Homo sapiens: one gene and its partner. The gene in region 2 interacts genetically with the main gene of each other region. Each region holds a gene or a part of one and is shown on either strand. Other genes may lie near its edges. The genes, in order: GBF1 and AHCYL1.

Evidence for each region.
Region 1: changes in AHCYL1 (region 2) and GBF1 together harm fitness less than expected from each alone (positive genetic interaction), as found in Homo sapiens cells (one study listed by BioGRID).

The regions. Positions count from the first base shown.
Region 1 is NC_000010.11:102,233,965-102,249,043, reverse strand, and holds the start of GBF1 (Golgi-specific brefeldin A-resistance guanine nucleotide exchange factor 1), read right to left. Parts: upstream 3,513-15,079; 5' UTR 3,263-3,512; exon of another isoform or gene 3,164-3,262; intron 1-3,163. UniProt on the Homo sapiens protein: Guanine-nucleotide exchange factor (GEF) for members of the Arf family of small GTPases involved in trafficking in the early secretory pathway; its GEF activity initiates the coating of nascent vesicles via the localized generation of activated ARFs through replacement of GDP with GTP.
Region 2 is NC_000001.11:109,976,834-109,992,753, reverse strand, and holds the start of AHCYL1 (S-adenosylhomocysteine hydrolase-like protein 1), read right to left. Parts: upstream 7,990-15,920; 5' UTR 7,702-7,989; coding exon 7,582-7,701; exon of another isoform or gene 7,211-7,581; intron 1-7,210. UniProt on the Homo sapiens protein: Multifaceted cellular regulator which coordinates several essential cellular functions including regulation of epithelial HCO3(-) and fluid secretion, mRNA processing and DNA replication.

The DNA of each region.
Region 1 (15,079 bases), on a different chromosome or scaffold from region 2:
TTTCCAGTTTCTCCTGAAAAATAGAAAGAGTGGTCATTCTGTGCCTGCACTCTAAAACAGTAACAATCTGCTGAAAAAGGAGCAGTTGGCTCTTCTAAATAAAGGAATGGGTTGAGCATGGTGGTTCATTCCTAAAATCCCAGCACTTTGGGAGGCAAAAGTGGGAGGACTGCTTGAGTCTAGGAGTTCGAAACCAGCCTGAGCAATACAGTGAGACCTTGTCTCTACAAAATATTAAAAAATTAGCTGGGCATGATGGCGCACATCTGTGTTCCCCGCTACTTGGGAGGCTGAGGTAGGAAGATCACTTGAGCCCAGAGGTCAAGGCTGCAGTGAGCTGTGATCGTTCCTCTGCACTCCAGCCGGGGTGACAGAGCAAGACCCTGTCTCAATAAAAAGAAATTAAAATTAAAGACAAAAAAAAAATAAAGGCATGGGTTGTCCAGTACACAACAGTCCCCACTAATCCTAATACATTCCCATGGGACTCAATTAACTCATTTACATTACCTGCCTGGCATTTAGGCACATGAGCTCGTAACCCCTGGTTTATATGATTGGCAAACCATTACTTTGCCATCATACTTCCATGATCATTTACACTACTATTGCATCTATCGTAATTTCCACTACTACTAGAACAAATAATCACTTCTATGATCACTTCTATTATTATTGGGGTTCCAAATCAGCACACTGCTTTATTATATTTTCATTTAGTTAAACAACTGCAGTTGAACATACTGAAATATTAAAAAAAAAAAAGAGTAACAGCTAAACAGCAGCTCATTATATTTACATAGCTCTTCTAGCCTGAGGATAAAATGTCAACAAAAACATACACCCTTAAATTCAATCCCACCATTAACCCAACAACAGAATCATTCTAATCAGTCACACAGAGCCACAGGGATATAGTGTGTGATCAATCAATGAGAAGTGTCATACAAAGATTAGGGTGATCCTTGCAGTGAGTACTCTATAAATAGAGTCTCCTCAAAAGCAAGAGCTGTGTCTTCTTCCTCTTTAGCTGCCCACAGCAGCCAGTCTAAGTACCCTATCAATGAGGTTATTATGTGAAAGTGGCAGTCATCCTGACTTCTGGAAAAGAGGGAAATAAAATAGTAGTGTAACTTTGAGAACTCTGAGCTGAAACTGGGATTGGTGCCCAGCTACTGAGGAGATATGTCTATAGCCTGAGTTCCCACTGTGCCAATGAGCATCACTGTCAAGACTGGAACATACTGTCTACAAACACCATTAAAAAGAAGCTCAAATACAAGCTTGGGACTTGTATTTGAAGGATGAATTTTCTGATTTGTGGGTAGGAGTGGGAATTATTCCTATCTAGAAAATTATTCCTATCTAGAAATGACATTTAGGATTAAAAAAAAGAAAGAGAGAGAAAGAGAAAACGTTTTGATGCCTCTATAGTCACCCTTAGGCTCAACTGAGGATGACTGGATCCTGGATTGATCACACTGCCTACCCAGAGACTAGATTGCCTGTTATGCAAAGCATATCAACTCAACAGGGCAATGGCCCAAGTGAGCAAGGCAGGATCATCAAACCTGGGTACCTCCTGAGGTATGTCATTTCATTTGCTGCGTTCAACTACTTTCTTGGGGGCGGGGAGAGGGGAGGAATTCTACAACTTAGATCAGCAAGTTAAAATGCAAATAGTTTCCTGTACCATTTCCATCTAAATCAACACAGGTGAAGCATAAATAATGCCATCCCCCTTCTCCCAACACACACAAAAATTTCAATTTCATAAGGACGAAGGTAGGAAGGGAAAAGGGAAATTATGAAATTTCAATTTCATAAGGACAAAGGTAGGAAAAATTGAGTTAGTCATTCCAAGATCCTAAATAGTTTTCTCTTCTGACACTATGAGGTTTTGATCCTCCTTGTTACTACCTCATCATGCAAAAGTGCAAAGTGTTCCTGACTGCCAGGGCCAAAAGCAGGCCACAAGTCCTGATCACATACTGAAACTAATCCCAGATAGAGATAACGTTTATTGAGTGCCCACTACATACCAAAAGGTATTAGGTTGATCCTGCTCTTAACCTACTACATGCTCTAGCTAGGCCACTGCACATACATGCTACTACTTTTAAGAAGTGCATTAACTGAGCAGTCCCAAAGCAGACCTTTCCATTTGTATCCTCCACAGGGCCTAGAGTGCCTTTTATACCTGAATTAATGCACAAGTTTCCACATTGTGCATTAAAAAACACCATCTACACTATTCCTTATTTCTAAAAGCATTCGTTACCCTTGGTGGACTTTTATAGCTTTACAACACAGCAGTTTATCAAAGGTCATCACAGTGCCATAAACTACTCTCTAGGGTTATGTTCCATCATTCACTCTGGGGCTCTGACCCTACAATTGGCTGAAAATCTCTCATGACTCTTTTTGCCCACTAAACATAATAGGCCGACAATACCAAACTTTGCCAGTATTCAAATATCTCTCTCTGCTGTCAGTCAAATATGTCATAATAGAGTGGTTTCCTTATGATTAAGCCTCATCTCCTTAGTGAAGATCTGAGAGAAAAATGTCAACAAAAACATACACTACAAAAGAATGCCTGTGAAAGATTGTATAAAGGAACAAACAGGCCCAGAAGATAAGTATAGTGTTTACATACAGACCCAGACTGGCAGCTGAGCTGTCCTGTAAGAGGGAAGCCTTCTCATAGCCCAGTTCCCTGCGCTGCTATAACCTCAAGCCTTCCACACGTCCCTCTGCTGACAACCTGATTCTAGGGTGCACTAGTTCATCATTATTAATGAAGCAGTTCCTTTGTATTAGTGAGGCAATCACAAAGAAGTAGACGCTGTACAGAATCTAGAGAGACTTTCACATCTAAAGTCTGAAAACCCATAAAAGTAGACACAATGCTCCTTAGGTTTGCTTTCAGCTTTTGAGTACTGGGCTCTTCAGGATGCAGAAAGCGCTGGAAAGGAGAAGCTAAATACTAGGTCAAGCCTGGGAAAACAGAAGATTTGGGCACCTGCAAAGGATCAGTAATGAGAGCAGAAATCGCCCCTCCTGCGGCAGAGGCATGACCTTTGCCCCTGCATACCTCCCTGTTCCCTCCCACAACAACCCTTCCCTCGTCTTATTCCTGTCCGCTGCGTCCTTAGCCCACCTTGGCTCGCCCAATTTAAGGGCCCTTCCCACTAATTCCCTATTGCGATGTCAGGGCGGCCTTCACGACACCGGAACTCTAGGAAGAGACTTCGCTGACCTGTCAGCGGATCCAAAATGGCGGGGCCTAGTCCCAGGACCGGCAGCCGCTGCTCATGTCCAGCCCGCACCCCGGAGGCGTCTCCGAGCAGCTCTCCCGGCTCTGGTAGCAGATGGGAGAAGAGAAGGAGCCTGTTTCCTGGAAATTGAGGCCGAAGTCAGGGTGGGACTGCACAGTCCGCCAGGATGAGTCGTCCGGGACGGGCAGTAGAGCCGGGTACCTTCCCTGTCAGCTCACTGACGTGGTAACTAGCCTCAGTCTAGCCCGCTGCCTGGTAACTGCGCGAGCCCTGCCGCGCGCAGCCAATCATAGCTTTGCACCGTGAAAAGTAGCATTCCGACTATCCAATCGAATAAAGGAAATTGGCTTCAGGAGGCGGGTAGTGCCTAAAGAAGCGCGATTACAAGGGAAAGAAAGGGTATGTTAGGGGACAACCAACGGATACGAGTACTCTCTGAGTGACAGTTTAAAAAACCAATAAAAAATGAGGAACTGGGCTGGGCGGCTAGAGAGGTGGAGTTAGGTAGAGTTCGGTTGCAGTGCGCGGTTTGGCAGTGGCTGCTGGGCATTATGGGGAAAAAGGCTACAATTGGCTGGAAAGGGGCGGGGTCCGCTTTGAGAACTTGAGCGGGCATCCCTACTCCCCTGTCCACGTATTATCAAAGTTACCTGGGCCAAGACCATGCCCCTTGAGGAATCACTCCTTTTCGAGGCAGCTCTGGGCTCCCTTCATTCTAAAAACAAGTCCAGCGATCTATTCCACACCCTGCTCTCCTCGCCCTCTTGTCCACCTTCCCTGTCGTGGCTTCTCACAGTTATGTCTGTCACGTCCCAACTCTGTTTCAGCGTCCTCTGCCCCACTCCCATCATCCAGAAATAGAGAAAATGGGACGTAGCAGAAGCCCTGGATATCTAATTTAAGTCTCTTCATTTTACATTATAGGAAACAGCCCCAGGGTGGAAGGCTGGGCCCATGTTCACATAATTAGTAAATAGCAGAGCAGAGAGACGAACCCCTGGGTCTCCTCACCCCCAGGCCAACTCTTTTCATCGCCTTTTGTCACCTCTTATGCCTTAGTATATCGGGCTTTGACTCCCGGTCTGCCTTTCATACCAAGCCTTTGACGGGCCTTATCCACCAGGCTAAATACGCAGCTTAGCCCACCTCATCAGTGATAGGAAACAGAAGTCTTTCTTGTTTGCCTTAGAAACGCTAAGGGGCCTGAGGGTTGGATGCCCACCTGTTTTCACTGTCTTGCCCCCAGCTGCCTCCTCCCCTTGCAAGAGATGATAGAGGTTACTAAGCTATTTAGAATTACCTGTATTACCTGGAAGTGAGAATGCGTGAGAAGAGGACAAGAGGATGGGTTTTCTCCTAGGAGACTGAATCATGAAATTCCCAGCCTATTTGGGACACTAGAGCCCCAGTGTCCCTGCAGACCTGGAGAAGCTGCTGGGAGGCAGTGAAAAAAAAATACCTAATTCTTTCCATACATCCTCCCAATTATGGACGACCCAAGTCCAGGGAAGCTCTATAACTAACCACATAGGAAAGTAGTCTCAAAACCAGACATCCAAAGACCATCCGTGTGCTACGATGCGCTATTTTTTTGTTTTGTTTTGTTTTTTTGTCTTTTGTTTGTTTGTTTGTTTTGAGAGAGTCTTGCTTTGTCATCCAGGATGGAGTGCAGTGCTGTGATCTTGGCTCACTGCAACCTCCACCTCCTGGGTTCAAGTGATTCTCCTGCCTCAGCCTCCCAAGTAGCTGGGATTACAGGCATCTGCCACCACACCAGGCTAATTTTTGTATTTTTAGTAGAGATGGGGTTTCACCATGTTGGACAGGCTGGTCTCGAACTCCTGACCTCAGGTGATCCACCCGCCTCAGCCTCCCAAAGTGTTGAGATTACAGGTGTGAGCCACCACACCTGGCCACGATGCTCTAGTGTAAAGCACCCATCAGATATCAGACGTGAAGAACCCCTCAGTAACTTCCTACACCTGCACATTGGGCTTCTGGTCGGTGGGTCCAGCTGAGGATCTAGCCTCTATCACCCAAAGAGAGTCAGGGAAAGAGGATATACCATCATAGCACCTCTTTCCACATTACCTCAAAGCCATTTTCCTCTTCATTTGAAAACTGAGAGTTGGTGTCCTGGGCCTGTCTCAGATTGAGAGGTCCTGGAAAGCCGATTGGAAAATCCTCTAAGTGGGCCAAAAATTTCTGCTCGCCAATATCTACTTCTACATACCTCCAGAAATTCATCATTCTAAAAGCATGTGATTGTGCAATAGAGATGGGGAGGAGAGAGATGACAATTCCCTAGTCCCTCCTAACCACTAATCATCATCTTACCAGGCAGAACATCTTCCTCATAGATTTCAGTGTGACATTTATTGAGATTCTACATTATGCCTGGGAATAACAGACATGGTCCTTACCCTCCTAAATTTTATTATCATAGCAGACAACACATAAGCTGATCCCTTCAATATGGTGGGTGGTGTAATAGAAGGTATACACTGAGGGTCATGAGAGCAAGGGGCTAAACTGAGAGTTCAGAAAAGGCTTCCCAGAGAAAATAAGACTTGAGTGGAACATTGGAGGAGTAGGAATTGACAATATAAAGATGGGTTACTTTCACAGGAAGGGCCAGAGGTGTGCAGGACACTACTAGGAAATTGGAGATGAAGACAAGGTCAGGTCCTGAAGGTCTTGTATGCCAGGCTAGGGAGCTTGACCTTTATCCTAAGGGCAATGGGAGTCACTGAACAGTCAAGACATGACTGCTCAGATTTGCCTTAGGGGCATATTGTGTGACTGGGCTTAGGCTCTTTTTTTTTTTTTTTTTTGAGACAGAGTCTTGCTCTGTCGCCCAGTCTGGAGTGCAGTGGCGCGATCTCAGCTCACTGCAAGCTCTGCCTCCTGGGTTCACGCCATTCTTCTTCCTCAGCCTCCCCAGTAGCTGAGACTACAGGCACCCGCCACCAAGCCCGGCTAATTTTTTGTATTTTTTAGTAGAGATGGGGTTTCACCGTGTTAGCCAGGGTGGTCTCAATCTCCTGACCTTGTGATCCGCCCGCCTCGGCCTCCCAAAGTGCTGGGATTACAGGCATGAGCCACAGTGTTTGGCCTGGGCTTAGGCTCTTCGGAGCACCCAAGCAACATAGCCTAACTGGGAGAAGAGAAGGAGCCTGTTTCCTGGAAATTGAGGCCTAAGTCAGAGAGGGCCGAAGTCACAGTCTGCCAGGATGTTCCTTGGTCATCTGTCCTGTCCCTTGCAAATTCCTAACCAGCAGGCACCAAGGCCACACCTTGCCCACAGGACTTAACCTGGTACCACCAGCGGGAAACCAGCCCTGCTGAAGGAGGGAGAGCACAGCCTAAGCAAGACAAGGGTACAGACTGAAAGGCAATGCCTTTGGAGTGCCCAGCCCAAGCCCTGAGATCCAGCAGGAACCTCCTCTTAATTGTTTTGCGCGGGGAGGGAGATGATAGTTACTCGTCCAAGTTCACTCAGTGATGGTGCAGTTCGTGGCAGCGTTGGAATACTACTTTGGTTTGTATCATTCCAAACCCTGCTGTCTCCACGAAGTCACCTTCCTTGGAGAAGAAGGGGGAAATGAAGAAGAGGAAAGATATGAGGAAAGAGGAGCAGAGAGAAAGAGAAATGAGTCTTTTAAAGTGGCAGAGGAAGGAGAATGGTAAACAGCAGGAGCGAAGCGGCTGAGGAGAAAGAAGAGGAAAGAAAGGCGAGACGTGGGAGGATTGGAACAGAGACAAAAGGGAGGAGAGACGGACAGCGACAAGTGGAGAAAATCGGCGAAACTTGAGTGGCAGAGAAGTCTGAGCGCTGAGACCCGGCGGCCCCGTGCGCCTTCCCACCTGGCGCCGATCCACTTTCCTCGGGGTAGCGGCCCAACCCACTTCGCTGCCAGCCGATCCCTTTTACCCGTGGCTACCGGGACCACTCTACTCTCGCCCACTTGGCTCTGCCTAAGCGTCCTAGCCGGAGCGCGGTCTCTGCCACGTGGGGAGGGGCGCGGCCGAGTTGCTGAAGAGCGCTTCTGATTGGCCAGAGGGCGGGGTTCTTGGCGTCTCGCCGGCCAGACCCCTCCCTCAAAGGCGGGGCCTGGAGATCCACAGCTGGAAAGGGCGGAGCCCCAGCAGGGCAGCTGGAAAGGGGCGGGGCCTGACGCGCGCGGCTCGCCGCGGCGGGCTGGGGGCGCCCTGGTCTGCCATAAAGTGAATGGGCGCCGGCTGGGGGTGGCAGTACGCGGTGAGGCTCACTCCCTCCGAGAGTCCAGGAGCGCCCGAGCGGAGAGGCGGCCCGGGAGCAGGGGGGCGGCCCCCACTCCGGCCGGGTGCCCGGCCCCTGGCCCCTGCCTGCCCTCTAGATCGCCGCCGCAGCCGCCGCTACTGGGAGTCTGCCTGTTGCAGGACGCACTGTGAGTGTTTGACCATTCTAAGGACAGGGGCTCATGGGGCCGAGGAGCTATTGCTGGACCTTGGAATCCCTAAAACGAGACCTGGGGCAGCTGAACTCCGGTGCCTTGGGAACAGGTCGAGAATGGGAGGGCGGACTGCAGACCTGGGGCCAGGACTTGGGAAAAGGGAAACTCAGGGTAAGAACCAGGGGATAGGGAAGGGGGAGACTCAGAGGATCCGGAACGAAGCCGGAGACTTGAAACCAGGATAGGGGCTTCGCGAGGCAGGGAGTAGGGAGTCTGGAAACCATTACCAGAAAGCGCCCTGGAATCCCAGGGCACGGGGCAGGCGGCCAGGGAGCGAAAGGGGTTACAGAGGCCCTGGCCAGCGGGGGAGCTGGCGGGGCGGCCCCCAGTGTGGGGGCAGTTGACGGCGCCCGATGCCCCTCGGCCTAGGCTCAGACTCCTGGGGCTGGGAGCCGGGGTGCGCCTGGTCGCACACGCTTCTCTTCCCAGCTGCTCCGCAGTTGGAATAGGAGCTGTGTTGTGAGAGCCCGGCCGCGACTGAGTCAGATGGCCGCTGTGCGGATCAGAGTGACCAGGCGGCGGGTATAGTGGATCTGGCTTGGGGTGTCTGGGCCCAGAAGGGTCCTGACTTGAGGCCGCCTCAGAATCGGACAGAATGTCCGCGGTGCATGGGGCTCGGAGCGGACAGAATGTCCGGGTAGCGAAGTGGGTCTCTCCGGAGCGGGAGTTGTGTCTGGCAGTGGCGGACAGAATGTCCCTGGCTGGGTGGCATGTCCGTCTACCCAGCAGCGCCTGCCCAGCTGCTGCGTGTGCGATGGGGTCGGCTGCGGTGGGTCACCTCAAATCCCAGCTCACACTTTGCAAACTTGTTTCAGCTCCTTCGGGCTGCGAAGCTGTGAGCAGGGAGCGAGAGTAAAGGCTACAACCTGGCCTTGGGGTGAGGTGGGCTGGGACACATGCCCCCTTCAATTCAGAATAGATCAGAGCATCACTCTGTACTTCCAGAATCCAAATTTGAGGACAGAAGGCCAATGAGGAGCCTGCTAGTGGGAATCAAGACCAGGAAAGGAAGGAATAGGTGACAAAAGGCAATGGGAAAACAGGAAGGAGCTGGGTACAAGCCCCTGGCAGCCTCAGTTGCCCCCTAATTCCAATACAATTAACCAGACACCCCCCAGACTCCTTGCTGGAGTATCAGGCGACCAATGGCTCCTTCCCTACAGTGGGCAGGAGCCCAGGCCAGAAGAGAAAACTACAGCCCCATTAGCAAAGCAAATCCTGTGGTCCTGTTTCCCTTTTTCTTCCTCAGCCCTACCAGTCCCAACACCACCCTGGTGGCTGAGCGGAGGTGGGAAGGAGGCTCATGGAATCCAGACTCTGGAGTCCAACAGGGGGCTATCTGGCCCTCTCAGTCTGGTTGGGAAGGATATCTTGGCCCTACCTAACAGCCGGGTTTACTTTCCCTGCAGCTGGGATACAGCCCTGACTCTGCTGGGCCCATACAGTGACCATCCACCCTGACCCCAATTCTAACCACAGCTCAATTATGCTGAAGAGGACAGAACAGGGAGAACGAGTCCATATAAGTGAGCAAGATAGCCCAGCTGGGGACTGAGTTTTCACAAGGACAAGTGCAAGGCATTGTATTTAGCAATGAGTAATCTAAACAGTGGTTTCAACCTTTCTTACCCTTCACCTGTGAGTGACATACAATACGTATTCCCCATACTCCCATGTCCATTCCTCAGTTCTAAAGTTTGCTTATTACTGGCTAGGATTCTCAACTTTTGTTTTTCATTTGCCCTATTTTGATCAATATAAAGACACACCACAATTATCCCCATCACATTCTGATACACTTTTCAGGGGCTTGTGCTCCCATTGCTGTGCTCCCATAAAATCACTGAAATTATAGGTGAAATGAAGGACTCTGTGTCAGGAAAGGAACAGGGAAAGCATTACAGATGGTTCCCTGAAGACTTTAGCTCAAAGTTGGCTTTTGCCAAAAAGGCCAAAGAGGTGGTATCATAATGAAGGTGATTGGAAACAAAAGACAGAACCTTTTCCCACCCTTGCATAAAGCCTTGTAACTGAACGCATGCCTGGTCACTGGCTCTTAGGAAGAATGTCATGGGCCTAGAGTAGGGTCAGAGAATGATTGGCAGAATGGGGAGCCAGGGGTTGCTGGTGAGGGCAAATTTCAAAGTTTAGTCCTCTGGAAGGTGAGACAGGATGGAAATCTACAGCATAATAAAAGACCTAGATATGCAGAAGAATTGCTTGCTCCCCAAATCTTGAAACTGGAGATGAGGGGGCCTTTTAGAACTGGAGTGATGCAAGCTCAGGATGAATAGAAAAATGTTCTTTGGCACACAGTGGGCAGCATACTTCCAGAGCTCATTTCCAGAGAGATGATAGAGGCAGGAAGTAGAAATGGAATCCTTCAGGGTTTGGAAGGATCAGCACATGTCAGAGTCACAAATGGCTACAGGGTGGAGGGAGTGAGGCATGGAAAGAGCAGAACTAGATGGTTTGAATCTCTTCAAATCTCTTCAAACTGTGTAACCTTGCATCCTGCCTTCTTAGAGGTGTAATGGGGATAGGCACTCCAGCCATGCAGGGCAGTTGTGCGAGTTAAATGAAATTATGTCTGTGAAGGCCCTCTGCAAATGGAGGAGCATCATATAAATAAGAAGCACTGCTATTATTATGCCCAAGCTGCAGAATCTTTGTTTGGAAAAGTGGGGCTGAGACTTAGAGCAGCCTAATCTCATCCCTGATGCAGCCATAGGAGGGATCTTAATGACAGACGGGCCACCCTATCGTGGACTTCAGATGCTGGCCACTACCCCTGCCGCTGTCTGAGAACTCTGGGGAGCTCCCCAAATGCTCAGCCTGTCTACCAGGCCAAATATCTCTGCCTGCCTCCTGCTCAGGGATGGGAACATTGGCCCAGGACTCAGGTTCAGGACGGGAGGGCAAACGCAGCAGGCTAGAGCTGACTTGTGGTGACTGAAGGATGGGGCCAGTAGAATCTTTTCTTCTCCATTCACACTAAATGATGCCTCCTAGACTAACCTGAAGGATCCATTAGGTCCTGAGCTTTGGGGTGTCTAGGGTGTCCATGGCCACTGCCAGGGACTCATGAAAAGAATGATGGGGAGGAAAAGGAAAAGATCATCAGTGGGGTAAGAGTTGGGGGAAGACAGAGAGGAATAACTTTCAAAACTCTATCTCTCCTTTCCCATTGTCCTGCCCCGGGGCCTTTTTTACACCTTTCAGTTAATAGTTTCTCCTTTCCTATTTCTTCCCTGCCCAACCCTTTATGCTCACCATGGTCAAATAAAGGTCACAAAGATGCTGTTTTTTGTCACACCCCTGGATACAAGCCTCCAGTGACCCCTACTGCTTGGTGCATTGCTTCTCATAGTGGGGTGGGCGGGGGAGGAGGGCAGTACGGGAGTGGAGGAGGCATGACACACAGTCTAAACAGGGCCCATCTTCCTGGTGTGGTGATATCACTTGAAGATTGGGGGGTTTTATATTAAAAAAAGCTTTATTTTTATATTAAAATATTTTATAATCCATGACTAAAGTATGGAATAGAACGAAAAATTTGTTTGCATTTTTAACATAAAGCTGGTGACCTCAAAACAATTTCATACTAGTGGCAGCTGTTTCAGGTCATGCTTCTGTTTTCTAGTAGATGTTGTTTTTGACTGGTCTTAGGGTTTTTTTCTTTATTCAGGGCTGTTGCTCAGTGTGAATCTTAGCGGTTTTTGATGAAAAAGCTGGACATACTGTAGCCTAGACTTTGTCAAATCTGAACCACTGCCCCTTGTCCCCCATTGGAGGCCCCCTCGGTTTGACTCGTTTCTCTCTGCAGATCTCCCGTGGCCTACACTGAGACTCTGACTAACCTAGGCTCACCACTGCCCTCCCAGCCTGCCAGCTTATTCCCAACACTGCTGATTATTTAGAATGCCATACCCCTTCTCTTCCTCTTGAACTCCCAATTCAGTCACGTGCCTATATTCTCTGAGCTCCCAACACTCGGTACCACCTTCCATGGGCTTCCCTCTCTCTGATCTCCCACAGTCTGGGAGTCAGACCCATGCGGTCCATCTTTCCATCCTGTGCTCTGTTTGCCTCCCTACACTGCAGACTCCTACAAGATAGGGTCTCTGCCTTACTGTTCTTGGGATCCCTCTTAACACCTAATACTTGCTGAAGGAAGGAAGCAAGGAAGAGCAGGAAGACTGTGGAGTCATTTCTCTGATCCCCGAATCGTCCCTTAATAACTTGAGTGCTTCAAATCTTTGCTGCAAATGTGTCTCGATTTGCTCCCATTTGCACACTGCAGTTCAGCAAACCATAGAGTCTGGGTGCTCAGCGTCCCTAATGAACATGCAGCCATGTCCACTTAAGGACCTCACTTCAGTTTCATGTTTATAAGATGAAAACATCACAACTCCAGCTCCTCTCATCTCTCCATTTAGCCCCTGAATGAGAAAGGTTTTCTCCTATTTGAGTTCCAGGTTATGCCTCCAGCCTCAGGCATTATTATTGCAACCGATTGTGGGCTCTCACTATGTCCCTGGTCTACCTCTCTGGCTTCAGGACTTAAGTGGGTCCACATGACAGCTGACTTATTGCCATGGGGTTGTGTCTCTTGGAAACCATGGCCTCCCCACTGTGGCCTCCCTGGCCTGGGATCTGCTCTCCACCTTCATATGTCCTGGATATTTCATTCTTGCTGCAGTCCATGACCAGGCTTCCTGTAATTCCAGCCTGTACTACAGAATCAGAGCATACCTGTAGGCCCTCTGTACTCCCTGGGCCTGGGATTGCCACCCTGATACCAGTGGGACTGGGCCACACATCCCTCACATCCCTAGCAGGGTGTGGCAAAAAGTCTAGGGGTGGGGCCGGCAGCCCCCTTCCAGAGCTGGACTCACCATCACTGTTATCTTCTGACTCTCTCTGTCCCTGCCTGGGCATTTCTTACTAGCATCAACCAATCCTGCGGCTTCCAGACCTACTGCTTGTTCTTCCCTATCCACTGAGTGAGGCGAAGTCCCTGGCCTCAGTCCCAACTCCCTAGCTTCCTGACCTCCAGCAGTTTGGGGGAGCTTAATCTTCAGCCAGCCTGTCTCCAGCTCAGACAACAGCTTGGCGCCCCCAGCCTTTGCCTGACCAGCCCACCCGGACGTGAGTCGGCTAGAGGTCTATGCCCCCACCCTTCCATCTCTCTATTGCCTGCCTGGCTTTACTGTTCTTTCCTTCTCTCTTCAGTTTCACGGTCAGGTCCCTTCTCAGCTGTGGCTCCTCTCTCTGCTGTTACTAGCCCATGCAAGAGCCTAAAGGCTTCATTCTTTCCTCTACCAGTCCCTTGTCCCCAAAGTGGCTCCCAGCTTGGGTTACTCTGCCCATTTTGCTGTTACCTTGTTGACTGGGTCACCTATGCTCAGGACAGAGTGTTCACAGCATGTGTTGCCTATCTCTCAGTAATGCAGCGTACTCACCTTCATTCACCAGGGAAACACTTCACTGGAGGATACAGAGTCTGGGCAGATGACTCACTCAAGGAAGGGCAGACACAGGGATGAGATCTTAGCCACCACTCCACCCTCAGTGCCTAACTCAATGCCCAGCTCATAGAATGTGCTAAATAAACATTTGTTTAATGAGTGAGGAAAAAAAACTACTCAGGTAGAGTTTTATCCCTACTCATATTTACATGTTTATGTTTTTATCTAAACCTTATAACAACACTGAAGGCAAGTAGGGAAGGGATCATGAACTTCCTTTCGGAGATGAAGAAATGTGCTCAGAGAGGTAAAGTAACTTGCCGAGGACACACAGCTAGTAAGTTGTACAGCCAGGACGTGAATCTAGATCTGCTGACTCTAAACCTAATTTCTTTGGGCTATACCAGATGACTTTCCTGAGAGGGGCCTGGGCACTTTCTGCCCCTCCTCCCCACCCCATCCTCTAGCTCCAGCATTCTCATGCCTTCTCCTCACTCAGCAGCATCCAGTGCAGAACACTCCCCTGGCCCCTTGGCCTGCTCCTCCCCCACACAGAGTCCTTAGCTCCTGGGACTGAGAGCTGAGGTTCAGAGGGGCCAGGGAGGCGGTGGGGGGGTGGGGGGTGGGGGAAGGGTAATAATGGCTAGCTCCAAAACAGCCCCGGCAGCTGTCCCTGTCACAGAGAGGAGACTGTGTGACGGTACGTGTCTGTCTGCCTGGATGTGGCAGCGCATGTGTGGGAGAGTGTGTGTTTGTGTGCCCCTAGCTCCAAGTCCAAGTGCTTATTATGTCTGAGTGGGGGCCTGTGTGTGTCTGCACATGTGTCTGTCTGTCTCTGGGAACACGCAGCCTGAACTCGGCTTTCTGGCCTCGGCTTTTCCTCGCCCATATCCCTTCTCACCCTGCCTCCCTCTGCTGAAATAAAGTGAAAGCAAGATGCAGGTATGGAATGCCGGGGACAGGGTAATTTGGAAAACTGCAAGTCGGGAGCCAAAGCTGACTGGAAGGCTAGGTGGCAAGGGTGGGACTGCTTTTCCCACAGGTAAACCCCTCTCTGGGTTTTTTCCCAGCTCCATGTTGCTTCCATGGCCTCTGGAAAAGTCAGGGGGATGATTTGCATTTCAAGGGCATCTTGGGTATGAAGTAAGGGGTATGAAGTAAGGGGAGACTTCAGAGCACCCCTTTTTCCAACTCTCAGTTCTAACCCTTCCTCCCTCATCTTCCCAGCCAAGGCTACCATAGTTCCTTCTCAGGGACATCTCCCTTCCATCAGAGCATTGTTGGCCAAAGTTTTCCAGCTCCAAACCCCCTGACCTGACCCGACCTGGAAGGGGAAGTAAGCTGAGCACACCTCCAGTTCTGGCCTGACTTTTCTCCTGTCCTGGGTTCCCTCCAGCCCTGTCTCTTCACACCCAATAAAAGGTCCAAGATCTAGACCCCTCTGCCTGTGGAAAGAGCAGGGACTCTTTCTCAACCTCCTGCCTTGACCTCGGTTCCACTCCCAACCTGGCTTGAGAGGTGGGGTGGGGAGTGGGGGCACAGCTGTGATCTCTGAGCTGTTGAAGGGGGCATTACCATGTGCAAATACAGGCTGCTGCCCATCTGCACCTCCCTGAGAAAGGCTCCTAATAAATCCAGAGCAGCCAAGTGACACACATCTCAATCTAGGCTAATCCACCACATTAATGCCATCCTGTGCAGCCTGCATTAAGCCCCTGTTAATGGGGAAGGGGTGAGAGAGGCAGAGAGGCCCCTCCCACTCAGCTCTCTACCCCTTCCCTCTGTCCCTAGCCTCCTTCTGTTCTCCTCCAACCAAAAGGCACCCAGAGTC
Region 2 (15,920 bases):
CTCTGACTCAAAGAGTAAGAACCATTGTTCTACAGTCTCTAATCCAGTGATTCTCAAGAGCATTCCCTCAAATAGGCAAAAGAGAAGCATATTCCAATTCTCTATCTTCTACACAAATCTGTCTACTTACTGACCTCTCTTCTAAAATTAGAAACAAAGATGGGGATGTGCATTTTGAAAATTCAAAGTGAATCTCTATTTTCTACATCCCCAAAATAAAGCTAACAGTCATGAGAACCTGAAGTCTTCTCCTTAAAGTCTTTGAGAAAGGAGAAGGGGTGGGTCTGGTCAAAGAGGGCAGATCAGAATCTCTGTCCTTTAACTTTTTTTTTTTTTTTTTTTTTTGAGACGGAGTCTTGCTCTGTTGCCAGGCTGGAGTACAGTGGTGCGATCTTGGCTCACTGCAACCTCCACCTCCTGGGTTCAAGCGATTCTCCTGCCTCAGCCTCCCGGGTAGCTGGGACTACAGGTGTGTGCTGCCACACCCAGCTAATTTTTTTTGTGTTTTTAGTAGAGATGGGGTTTCACCATGTTGGCCATGATGGTCTCGATCTCCTGACCTTGTGATCCTCCTGCCTCGGCCTCCCAAAGTGCTGGGATTACAGGCGTGAGCCACTGGGCCCAGCCTGTCCTATTAACTTTTATGGTAGGTCTCTCTCTTTTCTTCCCCCCGCCCCCAGATTTCTGGAACCACAAAGGAAACAGGTCATGGCCCAAAAGCTTTGACGTGAGGTCTTGACGTGAGGTCAAGCCAGTCTTGGGGGAAAAGGGACAAAGTATTTCCCATTAAGCATATGGAAACCTATGTCCCAAAGGTTCACCTTAATACAATTAGTAAGTACTAGAAGAGTTGGAGCCATTTATTAAAAACAGAACTTCCAAAATCCTCTCATTGCTCAAAACTCAGTATGAACGGCTTCATTCAGGAAGTCTAAGTGAATGAAAGATGGTTATACTCATCTCCTCCAGCCTCTTGCCCCTTTACTCTGTCACTCACAAATTTACTACGTAGTTCACACTGAGCCACACATCATTGTGGATCAGCACATTAGCATTTTCCTTGGCACACAGGCTCAGAGGGATTCCACTAATGCCATCGTACACTCGCAGGTTCCGGAGAGAAAAGAAAAACATGTCAACAATAGGGTGTGCTCTTGCTGAGCAGTTCCTCAAATTGTGAAGAAGTAAGCCTGAGGCAGGTCCAAGATGAACAGCATGGAACAGAGAGCAGTCCCAGACCCCTCCTGTTTAATATGCCCCATTTCCATCACACAACTGAGTACAGGCTGTCCACTTTAAAACAAGTGAACTGGCTTGGGCTGGTAGAGAAGAACATGTTAAGCCCATTAAGCCCCACAGGTTAAGTACACAGGCACATCAGCGGAGGCGTTGGGGCTTTTATGGTAAGAAGCAGGAGCATGCTTGGAGAGTCTTGTACCTGTGGTTCTCAAAAGTACTTTTCCAATCTCTACCCCAGATTTCCAAATACTACCTTTTACCAATAGTTCATTAAACTTTTTACTTTGTGTTCCATTTGGGTAGTGAATGATTAAGCCCCCCAATGTATACTGATAAGCAGTATCCATCATTATCTACATTCTGAGATTAAGGCACCAGGCTAAATCCTTTAGAAAAATTAAACAGAGATAGAAACAAAAATGAAAGCAGTCTGAGTCTCTCAACAAAGGCATGGATGCTCCACTCTAGTTCTATGAGTGGCATGCAGCAAAGGCCACACATTTCTACAGGAGAAAATCAGTTATACATAATTAGAAGCAGGCTGTTAAGAGCAATGAGAAAACAGTACCTGCAGGGATGGGGGCGGGGGTGCTGGAGTACATACCTAAAATGATAAAGTCACAGTTCAGAAGTCTTTGCAATTATTTCATGTAATTCAAGGATTCTAGTTTGGGAAAACCCCAAACACCTGAAGTTTAAGGAAATAAACTCCTGGACTGAGACTGGCCCAGTGTCTGACAAATACCCACATTCTATGAGTGCATTATGTATTACGGGGGATGAATGGGGAATGGTAAGGTAGAGGACATCTCAACTCCATCAAAAGCTCTAAGATCTCTGTCTACACACCCCACCCCTGTAGTTAACAAAATGTTTTGGGGTTCAGTAGCTGTAAGCTCTATATAAAATAACATTTTTGTCAGAAAAAAATTTTCTTATTGAAAAGACATTCCAATAGAAACTTCTTTGTTTTGGCTCTTTAACATTTCAAAATTAGGCTCTCATTTGCACTATCATGTTGCATCATCCAGAGAGTTATAAATAGGGTGGCCACATAAACCAGGGTAACTTTCAGAGCTACGGAGGCACTCCTTGGACTGCATGCTAGGATAACAGGTATAAACCAGAATTGCGCCAGGCAAACCAGGATATATGGTCACTCTAGGTACAAAAAAACCCCACTAATTACTATTTACTAAATGCTAACCCTCTCAACCATGTATATAGATAGCACTATCATTGTTCCCCATTTTACAGATGAGAAAAGGACGTCACTTGTTGAATGTCCCACAACTATTAGATGGTAGAGACTAAAGGTAAAACTGACTCCAAAAATCAGTGCTTACCTTATGTTGTACTACTACTCACAGTTTTAGGAACAGAAACGGGAAGTTAAAGGCGTCTTATGTAACAGCCAAGCAACAGTGGGACAAAAGAACTACTTGAGTGAGTCAAAGGAAAATATGGAATCAGAAAAGGAAAGGCAACTGCAATTCTGTGTGAATTTTTATTAACTGCTTACTACACAATAGGCACTGATAGTATTGACAATAATCAAAAGGAAAATTTGTGGTAAGAATTTGTCTTCAACTGGGGATTCTCAGATTTCAGGCTAGAAAAAATTCTGGTCTATGCACGTAGGTTGCCCTTCACATGACAGGAATGCTTCTGACGCACCTCATTAGCATGTGTTCTGAATTACTATTCAGTTCTAAATTATAATAAAATGTATCCAGTATAATCAGGGTTGACATTCTTTATAAAAATGCAATACTCACATTCCCAAACTTGAGAAACAGGTACGTATAAATGATTCTCCTTTATTCGCCAGTTCCTTTAAAACAACCCCAAGAGGGCATTAAAGTGCTTATTTACAGATCATTAACTACTCGGAGTGGCAGAGTACACTTGCTAGGAGTCACAGGCAACTAAAGACCTGCATGATTCCATGTATCAAAATATCCTTTATAGACAACTTTCCAAGAATACTATATTGGGGTGGGCGTGGTGGCTCTTGCCTGTAATCCCAGCACTTCGGGAGGCTGAGGTGGGAAGATCGCTTGAGCCCAGGAGTTCAAGACAAGCCTGGGCAACACAGGGATTTCCCCATCTCTATAAAAAATAAAAATAAATTTTAAAAAAGAATATTATATTGGGTAAAACACTCTGGATCCAAATGACACACTCCTGATAAAAGAAAAGGTATACATTTGTAACCTTGGCAGCAAAAGATCTAGACAACTACTGATCTAGAAATCTTCTAACAGATTTCTGTTACAAGCTAAATGTCTAAAGAAACTTGGAACAAAGTAATTTGGAAACTAGAGTGTAACTAACTAAACCAAACAAGAAAAAGAGATGTAATCAATACCTGCGGAGAAATCTTAAAAAGAGGATCTTCTTACACCCCAACTCCTGTTTTAAAGACTGCTACTACAACAGCAGCCACTCTAAGGAGAATCAAGAGATACTAATGATGTGAAGATAGGAAATGCCAACCTATGAAATCTCCTTTCAGTGATTCTGACAAGTCCTGGCGTAAATTCTATACAACTGCACCAAAAATTAACCGTAAGATAACTCTGATGACAAAAGGAGAAACCTGGATTTTACCTATCGGGTTAACACCCAAGCTGTACCCATTGGGGCTCTACTTGGTGTGCTTCCTAAGTCTCAGCTGACCCTTTTGATGAATTAGTGGCACATAGCTTCATTCAAATAAAGAATATCCTATAAACAAAAGTAGTTTCTTCTGTGCTCTTCTCCTTCCCCACATTTTGCTGATGGGTCTGACTCCACAGATCCTAGGTCAAAATGTTTAATGGATCACTCTGGAGAGTGCCTTTAATGTTCAGAAGTTCAGAGAACAGCAAATGTTCTGAAAGGCCTTCCGGAGAAACATGCTTATTGTAAGAGCTCTCCAACAAGTTGGAGATTTGGGTTTACACTATGAAAAAAGAATCAACTTGACACAGTGTCAATTTCCAAAGGTCCAAGGACAGTTACCACTCCTGTTACACAAAGTAGCAGCAAAAGAGGGATAAATAACCAGTGGTTATGGGGAACTAGATTACTTACTTGGTTTGACCGATAACTGCCAACATTAAACAAGGATCTTCTTCAGTTGTGGTACACTTAACTCTTAAAACTCAAGGATTCCTTTTCTTACCTCAAATTTTCCTAGCCATACCATCTGAAATCACCAGTGACAGTCGTGAACAAGCCTTACAATGTGAATTACACTACAGCTATTAAGACATTCCCGTGAAAAATTATTTTAGAACTCTGTGTCAGGAAAAGTCGTCCCCTTGAGGAATTGACATGTATTATTTCCCATGCCTGCTAAGGAGACTGTAACTATGATTCTTTTCATCCTCTGGCTGCTAAAAGTTTCAAGTTGCATGTGATCAACCTCATCAACTATCTTAGCCCTCGAGGTTAACAATATTTTTTTCATTCTTTCTATAGTTTTTACTTCCTTTTATATCACATATATGTTCTGTGTTATAAGCCACTTCAAATGCCCATTGAAGAAAGAATATAAATATACGAATAGACTTTTAAAAAATTACACTGCTATCTTAACTCCCCAACATGCCCCTATCTCCACCTGTTCCAAAAAAAATAGGCACTTATTTGGCAGATGAGGAGATGCAGGTACAAAAGCTAATTAATTTGCTCAAGGTCATATCCCTTTAGTTGACTTCTCGACACCCAGACATCTCAAATCTTCAATCAAACCAACAAGTCCTATTTTGTTCATAGCAGTGTGATAGACCTTGGCATACAAAACTGAGTAAGTCATGATTATAGCTGAAGAATCTAGATATTTATGCTTTTAATTGATGGACATCCACTCTATCTCAAACAAAGCAAACAAAATGAATAAAAGCTGACTCTGTCTCAAACAAAGCAAACAAAATGAATAAAAGCTGACCAGAAAGTGACACTGGGATCTGATCTAACTGAGGACCATCAAGGTCACCCTGAAGTAACCTATATCCTCTGGCATCAAGAACATCCTCAATTCCTGAGGGGCCTCAGGGCTTCAGAATAATCCAAGGATTACTGGTCTAGAGCCAGGGTAGAATTCTCATAGGTGAAGGACTGCACCATTTGAAGAGGTCTTTTTCTCACACCATTAAGTACCATGCCAAGTTACTTTTTTCCCTCTTACTTTTCCCATGCTTTCACGTTATCAACACATGGCAGAGGTACAAAAGTGACTTAAGTCTTAATGTTCAATTCAGCAGTTCTGAAAAACAGATTGCCTAGGACTTGCTATGTGACCTTGACTAGTCCTCAACTGATCCATTAACTTAATAAATGTCTTTTATCATCACTAGGGAAAGGGTAATTAGTCATCATGAAACACTTTATTACAAAGTACTACGTAAATGCTAAAGAATAAAACTTAGAAGAGAAAGATTAATAAGAAACACGGTGGGGCACATTTACTGGTAAATGGAAACTTAAAACAGGGTCTTCCCACATTCCTGGCAGAGCCTGCTTCTTTTAGCTAATGCAATATAAGTCTAAAATCATCAGCACTTGGCCTGACAATAATACACATTAGTAATATTCCTCCTGGGAAGAAGAGAGGAAAAGGGATAGTTATTCATGGTAGGTGGCCACATGGACATCTCAGTTACTAGTTAGCCAGGTGAGCAATTAATATTTGAGTACCTACTGTATGCTGGGTACAAAGCTAGGCACACTGGATACAAAGGTGAACAAGAATCCCTGCCTTAATGAGTTTTTACAATCTACGATATAGACTTTGTCTTATCAACAGTGGTACTTTCAAGAATACAGATTTACTAACATAAAGGCAAGTAACAGCAAAGAAGACAGAGTCTGGGAAATTCAGGTATTAGGGCTTTCCCATTCTTTCCTCTAACTCATCTAAGGTCCCACCCTCAATCATTCTGCTTATAAGGACTGTGACTGTTTCTCCAAAGAATAGTGCAGATTGCAAAGGGTCATTGTCCCAACAAAGCAGTCAACTGAACTCTCAGCACTAAAGTTAATCAGATGCCTCAGAGTCAAGGAATCTTCCACAATCTTTTAAAGGAATTAAATTCTTAATTTTGTGAGAAAACAGCGAAAGCACACAATGGCGACTCGTCTTTTTTGATCTTGCATTTGATTTCTGGAGTGGCAGGTTAATTCACTTAAAAAAAAAAAAAAGAGCCATCTCTCCCACTTAAGACAGCTTAACTAGTTGAAGCCTCAAGGACTTAACTATTCCTGCAGCCCTTGCTTTGTTCAGCCCTGCATCCCATTAAACACTGGATGCAGGCAGAGACAGCTTTGTAAGACTCTGTCTTTATAAAGAAGGGAGACATTTATCTGGGTTCTCACTGGCTTCAGGAAGGTCACCTCTTTGTAAAGGTTCTCTGGTCTACTGCTAACTGGGTGCCAGGTGTATGGAAAATCAAGATGTGGTTGGCAGTAAATGATGAGAAAGCAATAAGGATCCCAATTCCACCACTCGGAGAGCTAGTCAGACTAAAATCTCCAAAGGTTGCCATTTATGAGAGAATTCGAAGGGTGTCCTTTGAGTCAACCTACAGCACAATAGATCAAACTTGTTCTGCCTCAAAAGTACAGTCAAGAGTGAGCAATCTTCCCTTACCACCCACTACTCCAACCCACCCAAGCTCCTTTCTCCAGGGATGCCTAAGTGATCTATTCACATGACTCTAGGATCCACCTGTATCCATGACAGTGTCTGCTGTCACCAACCTCCAAATGTCAATTTCTTACATATTTCGAAGTAATTGGAATGCTGTAGAAAGTGAAAATCATAGATTTTCAGTTTCATGTTACCCTCATCGCTTTCACCTGTATATCAGAGCTAGCTTCACGCATTCTTTTCTCTTGCCTCCCAGCTATCACGCAGTTGTTGGATAAAGCGGCCACTGCTCCCAAAGATTTGATGGAAGTTCTGCCAGATTTACCCACTCACCTGAAGGGAGATTTTCTGTACACCCCATGCCCCCGGACTGGTCACAAGGGTCAGCTGAGTTGGTTCACCCCCTCCCACTCTCGTCTTCGAGGCCCTTCATCCAGGAAAAGTCAGTCGCAAATTTAAGGCCTGGCCCTGTCGGGTTTCAAAACGATCCCGGAGGACTTGGGCCGAGGGACAAAGGAAAGCGAGGTCAGAGGCGGCCTTTCAGCCCGGGAGAGGCCTGGGGCCGCACAGCCGCCACCCCCTACATCACCTCCGCCGTCCCCAGTCACCCCCAGAAGTCCCAAACTAGCCAGAGCCCGGGCTTGCTCGCGTCCCTTCCGCGAGGCCGGAGCCCGAGCCCCCGCCGCCACCCAGAGCCCCCGCACCTTCTTGGGCGCCTTGGTGACGGTGGCCATGAAGGAGTACTTCTCGGCGTCCTCGATCTCCTTGGCCTGCTTCAGCTCCTCCCCGACCCCGGGCAGCGGCATCGCGTCAGGCATCGACATTCCCCGGCCGGCCCGGCCAGCGGCTGACCCGCCGCCCCCGCCTCTTTCCCCCTCTGGCGCCCGCCCGCCTGCCCGCGCGGCGCCCTCCGACACGCGATCGCCCACCCTCCTGCCGGCCCCTGCGTCGAGCTGCGTCGGCTTCTGAGGTGCTGTGGCCCACGCCTTGTCTGTTCGGCAGCCCAAGGCAGCCGGACAGCGACGGCGGCCACAAGAGAACCAGAACAGCAGCTCCGAGCTCCGACCTGCCCGCGCCGCCACCTCCGCTGTACGCAAACACGCACGCAAAGCGAGGGTAGAGGGCGGTGACGCCACGTCAAGTACTGGCAGCTCCCGGGAGGGGGAAGAGGCGGGGAGAAAGGGCACTCTGTCGTGACGTCACCACGCTGGGCTGGGCCACAGAAGCCGTTCCTCTCCCGCTCGAGAGCGAAGTTCCCAGGGTGAGCAGGACCCTTTGTGCCACCAGGTGGCACCATCAGCCCTGGGAGCAGCGCGAGGTTCATGCAACGATGCTGCGGAACGGAGGGTCTTTGGGCTGCGGGGTTCCTGGCAAGGCCTCAGAGGCGCATGAAAGGGGTGTTTGGGAGCAAAGACCAGAGCCCCACACGACACATCCTACAGCGATTCCTAGGAAATGTCCGGGGCTCGAGACAGCCCACTCACTCACTGGCCCAGCCCCAGGCCCTTTGGATTAAAGCTCCTTCCCAAGGGGCCGTGCCTGTCTTTTTGACTTCATAGGGGGCAGAACTGACTCAGAGTAGTCTGGTTTCTGCACAACGCTTTGTGACTTCCTCCACCACCATCTCCGACTGGGCCTTGCCTGTTTACAAAACCCTCATTGGGATAGGGCTGATGGGTATGAGGGTGGAGACCAGGAGAGCTGATGGAGAAGTCCCCAGCCAGAATGGCCTTCCGGTCCTTGCTCCACCAAAGCATTAGACCCTTCCAGCTCTCAGTGGGCATCCAGGACATTCATGGACTGCTCACACCCTTTTACTGGGCCTACTATGTGCAGTGCCTGTGCTGAGGCCCTGCTGGCAAAAGGACATGTGACGCATTTTATGTTTTGCAAGGCTTAGTTCAGCTGGAGAGGCAAAACCTGCTTGTATCCTAATGTCAGCTGAGGTAGCTTGTCCTTTGAGATTCAAATGACATTGGCTCCAATTACCATGTCCTGTGGAAAGTCCATTACTGGGAGGACTTGGATTTTCATGGTCACCTCTGGCTCTAGTTTTTTTGCCTTGTCTGGCATTTTATTCACTATTCTGGTCTTGTGACTGTTTCTGTAGCTCCTGGGGTCAATTCAGCCGCTTCTCCTTTCAACCCCCACCCCATGCTAAACAACTACAAAATAAGGCTGTAACATGTAGTAAAACTTTTAATAAAGGTTTGTGGGTCACAGGGGAGAGATTACATCACACAGCAAACAATTTAAGAACACATTTCTGAAATGTTCTGAAAAGTTATTTTGGCTGTCTTACCACCCGGGGATTTCTCAATGGCCACAAGATCCCACCACGCTCCCTAGCCCATTGCCATCTAATCTAGCTTCCTCCTGTTCCTCCCTTCCCATCTCTGCACCTCATCCTTCCTTCCTTGATAGACTCTGGGAAGCCAGATTCTCCTCTGCTGTGCTGAGCAATTCCAGTCTTCCCAGTGCCCTTTCCCTAAATTCCTCCCCAGGACCACCTTTTTTTTTTTTTTGAGATGACGTCTCGCTCTGTTGCCCAAGCTGGAGTGCTCTCAGCTCACTGCAACCTCCGCCTGCCGGGTTCAAGTGATTCTCCTGCCTCAGCCTCCTGAGTGAGTAGCTGGGACTATAGGCGTGCGCCACCGTGCCCGGCTAATTTTTGTATTTTTAGTAGAGACGGGGTTTCACCATCTTGGCCAGGCTGGTCTCGGATCCTGACCTCGTGATCCACCTGCCTCGGCCTCCCAAAGTGCTGGGATTACAGGCGTGAGCCACCGCGCCTGGCCAGGACCACCTTTTAACATCCAGAAACCTCCCAGGTTTTTAACAGGGCATACCCTTTCAAGAAGGAAGTTTTGGTTTGAAATGGCATTTTCCCCACTGATTTGTGTTCAGGGCTGGGGAGAGTGTGAAATATTCACCTCTAGGGCCCTAAAAGTCTTAGTCAGGGAATCCTGTGTTCCAGCCACCTAGCCTCATGAGACTGTCTGTTTGAAAAGGGCTGTAGAAGTGCCTGGAAGAATGCACCCTTTGCACATCTGCAGACCTTGGTCTTGAACTGTTTGTATTCTTTCATCTGCTCACTTTTTTGAGCACTCACACTTCCCTGTCAGGGGCATCACTGTAGCAGAACGGGAACAGAGATGGAGACCAGAATACCAGGTTCATCCATGAGGGTGCCAGACTGACATCTTTCAGCTAGGGGTCAGGAACCACACCTGGTGCACTAAGGACTCTCTGAACATAAGGCTCACAGTGGCTTTCATCCTTGTGGGTTTGCCCAAACTGTTGGCAGAGCCCAGGGATCAGAGATGCCTGCCCAAAGACTCGAGGCAGAACCCATTGGAACCAGGGATGAAATCTCAAGTCCCTATAGTAGAAAAATGTGTGACTTAAGAAGATCTTTTTTTTTTTTTTTTTTTTTTTTTTAAAGAGAAGCATCAGTGTATCTGTCTTTTGGATTTGATTTTTAGAACTCACTTTGTCTAAACATGTTGTCTCTCAGTCCCCCAGTTCTGCTGTGCATTTAAGCATCCAGACTGTGAGCTTCCTGGAGATTGAAGTTCAGTCTTTACTCCTCCTGGACCAGGTCTGCCCTAGCACCAGGCTCACAGTGTTGTCTGCTATTGCTGCTGCTACAGAGGATGACAGACAGGGCCAGGCCTAGAGCATGCAGTACCTTAGCAGTCTGGGCTAAGAAGGAGATCAGCAGGTCAGACTCCACTCACCTGAGTGGCTGGCCTGAGGGGAGGTTGATGAGCTGATGTAGGAGAGTTCGGGGACTCAGACTGGAAAGGGGAAGGGCAGCACCCCCTACCCTGGTGGAAAGCATTAGGCCTATGTGGTTCAAGTGAGGCCAGGGGCCCGGGACATTCTTGGAAACCAGCCACTGCAGGGGGCATGGGTGGCTGCCATCCCTTCCATCACGTGTGTGCTGGAGAGCAAAGAGCTCACCCAGCCAGGGAGTGTGACAACATAACATCCGTGAGAATCATTGCATCCTGTCTCCCACCCCCAAAACCCATCCTAAGATAGCCTCACATGGCACAGCTAAGGCGATTGCTTCTCATGAATGCCAAGAGATGACTTGTCTTCAGCCTACCCACCCACCTGACTCAGCACCTCTACTGGCAAGCTCACTGCCCTGAACAGCGCATCCACACACAGGTGAGAGACCCCCCACGGGGCAATTGGAGAAGAACAGGGACCCAAAGACAGATGCACCTGCTGTGTGTGGTGGTGGGAAGTCTCCAAGGGCCTGGAGCGAAGACCCTTGCTAGAAAGGAGTGGCCTAAGGGCAGTGGTGAATTGGGAGATGCTGTCACCAGAAATGTAGTGGCATTGGGCTACCACACGTGGGCTTGGTCTTGTTAATCAGATTCACTGTTTGTCCACCCCCAAATTGATGTTCTACATTCAGTCATTTGTTCTTTTATTTATAAAATATATATTGAGTGCCGAAGAAGTGCCAGCAGCAGGGCTAGATGTCAGTCGGGACTACAGAGATAAATAAGCTGAGGTGCTGATCTCTACGTGGGGACAGGTGATGGGGGTGGGGTGCAGTGGAGGGCAAAGGGATGACACAGAGGGAGATGCTGCCAGAGCTGAGTCTTGACAGATAAGCAGCTGGGCAAGGGAGGGAAGATTCTCCAGGCTGAAGAAACAGCCTGAGAATAGGCATGGTGATGGAAACAGCTTGGCATATTACGGGAACTGTAAATATCCCCATGTGGGTGGGGCACAGGGTGCAAAGCAGGGTGAAGTGAGCGCTGAAGCCAGGGCCAGATCCTGCAGGGCGTGTTAAGCCCTGGGTGGGTGGTGGTGATGTCTGCCATGCTGGGGAGCACAGGAGGAGAAGCAAGTGTGGCTAGAGGGGTGGAGGGGGGCTGCTGAGAGGAGTCAGCTTGGGACATGTTGAGTTTGATATGTCTGTGGAGGGCACTGTCCCTGAGTCTCAGGGGAGCCCAGGTTGGCACCTTTTGGAACTGCCCGCTCCCTGCCAGTCAGGCTCCCCACCAGGGGGAGGCTGTGCTCCTCCTGAAGGCCTTTCACCTCCTGTCGGCCAGGTGTTATGTTAGCCCTCTGGAATGAAAGTGCAGAAAAACTGCAGAGATCTTGGGTGACAATGGAAGTTCGGAAGAAGGTGAAGAGGGCAGTGGCTCTGTCTCTAGCTCTCCAGCATGGGCAAACCCTCCAGCTCCAGGCTTCTTTCTGTCCCAGAACTGCTACCTTGCACAGCTCTAGGAGGCACCACTGACATTGTAATTATTGTGAAAGGTGCCCTGGAGCACCACTTCAGATTGGTCACCTACCTCGCTGGCCCTTAGGGACCCCCAGAGGGTGGGCTCCCGGTTGCACCTCTGTGGCTGTGGGTGCTGGTCCTCAGGCTTCCTGGCTCCTACTTCCCACCGAGCTCCCTCCCTCCCTACCCTCAGCCTTTTCTCCTTCCCCTTCTCCAGTTCCAGTGGGAAAACATTCCTCCTTCTCTGTCTCCCCCTCTGCTTATTATTGTCATATTTATTAGGATCACTTACTCTTTATTATCATTTTGAACATTATAGGAAAGAAAAATCCATGAAGATTTTTTAAAAATTTCTTTTCATCTTGTTAAGTTCACTCCTAGTTCTTAGCAATTTGCAGAAACTCATTTTTACATACCTGTGATTGGTAGGTTCATGTCCTTTTGTATTCTGCTTTGATCAAATTACAATATTTCAAAAACACATGACCCGAACGGAGAGCATTGACATACTTGTTATTATTGTCCATGTTTTCCAAGCTTTCTGTCATATTGCTTTATGAGTTTGCTTAACTGTTTTCCTATTGTTCGGTATTTGAATTGTTTCCAACTAGTGCAATATAATGGAATGGAGGGAGGTGGTTTCGGAGTGGGTGTGGGGATGGCTTTCAAGCAAAACAGGCGAAGATGGGTCACAGCACCAGCTCCTGCCAGAGAAAGGGAGCAAAAATGTAAGTAGTGGGGGCAGTTATAATGACTGTAAACAAGGACCAGGATAAGGAGGCACCTTTTGGCCCTAGAGGATCTGAGGTCCTGTGTCTGGAACTCGTGATAGCTGACTCATGGCGAGGCTGCATGGTGTGAGGAAGCAGGAAAACTGGGCAGAGATGTGGGCTCAAATCTTCACTCTGCTACTAACTTGGCCACTGGCATCCTGGACCTTTTTTGACCTCCTCTTCCTCATGCAAGACAGGTTGATAGCTCTCCATCTGGGGCTTGTAATGACCTAATCCAGTAAGATCATAAATATGCAAAAGCTTTGAACAAGTTGCAAATATTGTGCAAATGTAAGGTACTAAGATGTGGGTCCAGGCTAACCATGGAGGGCAAAGGAGCTATTGTTGAGAATTTGGAATTCTCTCTTCGCTCCGCTTCCCGGAATGACAGGAATAAGCAGAAACCCGTCTGCTGCAGGAAAGGATTGTCATTGCTGGTTTTGAGTACTTGTTGACATGTGGATGTGTTTCCTCAAAAGGGAGGGCTGACACTGCCCCAGCCATGAGAAATTGCTGCTTTCCTGGCCCAACCTGGCCCCGGGGTCTGGCTGTGTGACCAGCAGCCCCTTGGAACTTCCTCACATGCTTTTTTTCTAGGTTGGACCAGAGATCCTGATGTATCTTACTTCAGTTCCCAAAGCTGCCACACATTAAAGTTCATACTGAGAAGGCATCCACCAATTGTAAACAATGTTCAAGAAATCTGTTCTGATGACTGTTTGTGCTACTTTGTATGTTTTTTCCTGCTCTTAAGTGTGTATATGGGAGCGGGGAGGATGGAGGTGGGGATGGTGAAGAGTTTACCAAAAAAGTAGAAATTGTGAAACTGGCCTTGGACTTTGGCCTCTGCCCAGTCAGTTATTTACTGAGCATCAGCTTTGTCTCGGGAGCTGTGCTGAGCGCCAGGGATCCCACAGTAAACAAGACAGACACAGTTCCTGTCCTCATGGGGCTTAGAGTCCATAGCAGAGCTTTGTCAGAAAATCAAGGTTCCCAGTACTGTCTGAGAGGGCACACCCTCTCCTTGCTGTCTCCATGTGCCCCACCCTGAGCGGTCTTCCAGAGTGTGTGGCATGCTTCCTCTCCCTGCTTCTGAGGCTGTGTCTAGCCCCATGCTAGGGAAGGAAGAGCAGTCTCTCTCCCGAGTTCAGAGATGCTGACCCACCCTTGAAGTAGCCCCAAGTCTTTTAGAAGCTTCTGGGATACTGCTTCCCTGGCAGATGTGCTCCCCCAGGGCAATGGTGAGTGGGCTGGTGAGATGTAAGTGTCAGCTTCTGGGATAAGGGAGGACACTGCCTGTCTTTGCCTCTCCCAGGCCTGCCTCTCTACCCATAACCTGCAACCTGCCTCTAGGACTGGAAATAGTCCTGGAATCGCAGAGACACAGGTGGCCAGGATGGTTTGATATCCTGGTGGGTACTCCTTCAGGATGCCTGCTGGGGGCTAGTAGAGGATTTGTCTTGACTGGAAAGGCTCTGGGGCTGATGGAGTGGAACAGACAGAAGCTGCCATCTCCCAAAGCTCAGGTGCTCAGGGTCTTGCCCCTTTGCCCTGAAGGGCCCGGCCTGTGGCTGGTTTGCTGGAGCCAGAGGAGAGTGGTCGGCTGCTGGTGGTGCGGAGGCTGCTGCGGGGTGGGAGCCTGCCTTCCTCACCCTCTCTGGTGTGCAGGGCGGGCCCCATTGCATCACCCTTGGAGTCTCTGCTCCTGGCTTTGCAGCCAGCTGGGCCCCTGGAGGAGGGACTCTCCCTGTTTTTCAACAAACCATTAACCATTTCACCCTCTCAAGCCCTCCCTGCAACCAACCTGGATTCCCAAGGCTGCTCCTCATGCCTCTCAACCCTGGTCTTGAAAACCTCCCTTCTCCTCCACGATTCCAGGAGCTCTGCCTGGACAGCCTTTTAAGGGTTGAAGGCTCCACATGCACAACGCAAGCCTGGCCTCTTCCCCGGGGAAAGAGTTAAGCCTTGTCCTCCACACCCTCAGCATTTGTCCCATTCTGCAGCAGTGAGGACAGAGCTCTTCAGCCTCCAACATGAGCTCATGCCACTTCCACACTTCCACAGAGTCCTGACGGAGGGTCAACACAATATTTTAGACCAACGGCAACGATGGATCTCATGCCAGAACCAGGAGCTTGGACCTTGGCCTCTCCACAAAGGCCCTTCAGCCATTTCCTGCAGACCCGCTTGGCCCTTTGACCTCTTTATAGGGGTTCAGGGAAGGAGTGGGTGATGTGAGGGCCTGGAAGGGCTCAAGAGACTGATGGAAGAGAGTCGCAAGTACACAGTGTTTCCCTGTTTCTGTTCGGGCTAGATGAGGAGACATCAAGGGGTGGGGATGGAGAGGCTGTTCCAGTCAGTGAAGCCCAAGCCTCATTCCCGCTCGGGTCTTTTATCTCCCAACCCCAACATTCCCTTCATCGCCCCACCCATTCCAGGGCCTGAAATAGCCCGAAACTTCATCCAAGCCTAGGCCCAGGTCCCAATTTTAGTTCCACAAACATTTGGCTGCTCCATAGCTTGCAGGATCCTGAGCTGGGTCCCGTGGCGGATGCAGAGATGAATGAGGCCCAGCCCTTGCCTTCAGGGAGCTTGCAAAATGTGTCCAGATGACTGCAGTCAGAGGCGGAAGATGCCCGTGGAAGAAGAAAGAAAGACGCTCCCCGTAGAGGGAATGGGGCAGGCTTGTGAAGGAGAGTTGGTTTTGTTGAATCTTAAAGGATGACTAGGATTTCAAGAGGCGGACATGAGGAACACTGACTTTAGATGGAGGGAACAGCAAGAGCAAGAATATGGAGGTGTGAAATGTAGGGTATGCTCTGGAACATGGCCAGCAATCTGGTTTGACTGGAGCACATGGGAGAATGTGGAGCTGCTTGCGGTTTCTGTGGATGTGTGAGTCTGTCTAGATTCCCTACAGGCTGAGGGCTCCCAAGTGCCAATGACCCACAGATTCCCAGAGCTTTACAGAGCAGCCTATTTGTTAATCCTCTATTTAGGAACAGAAAGGTGAGAA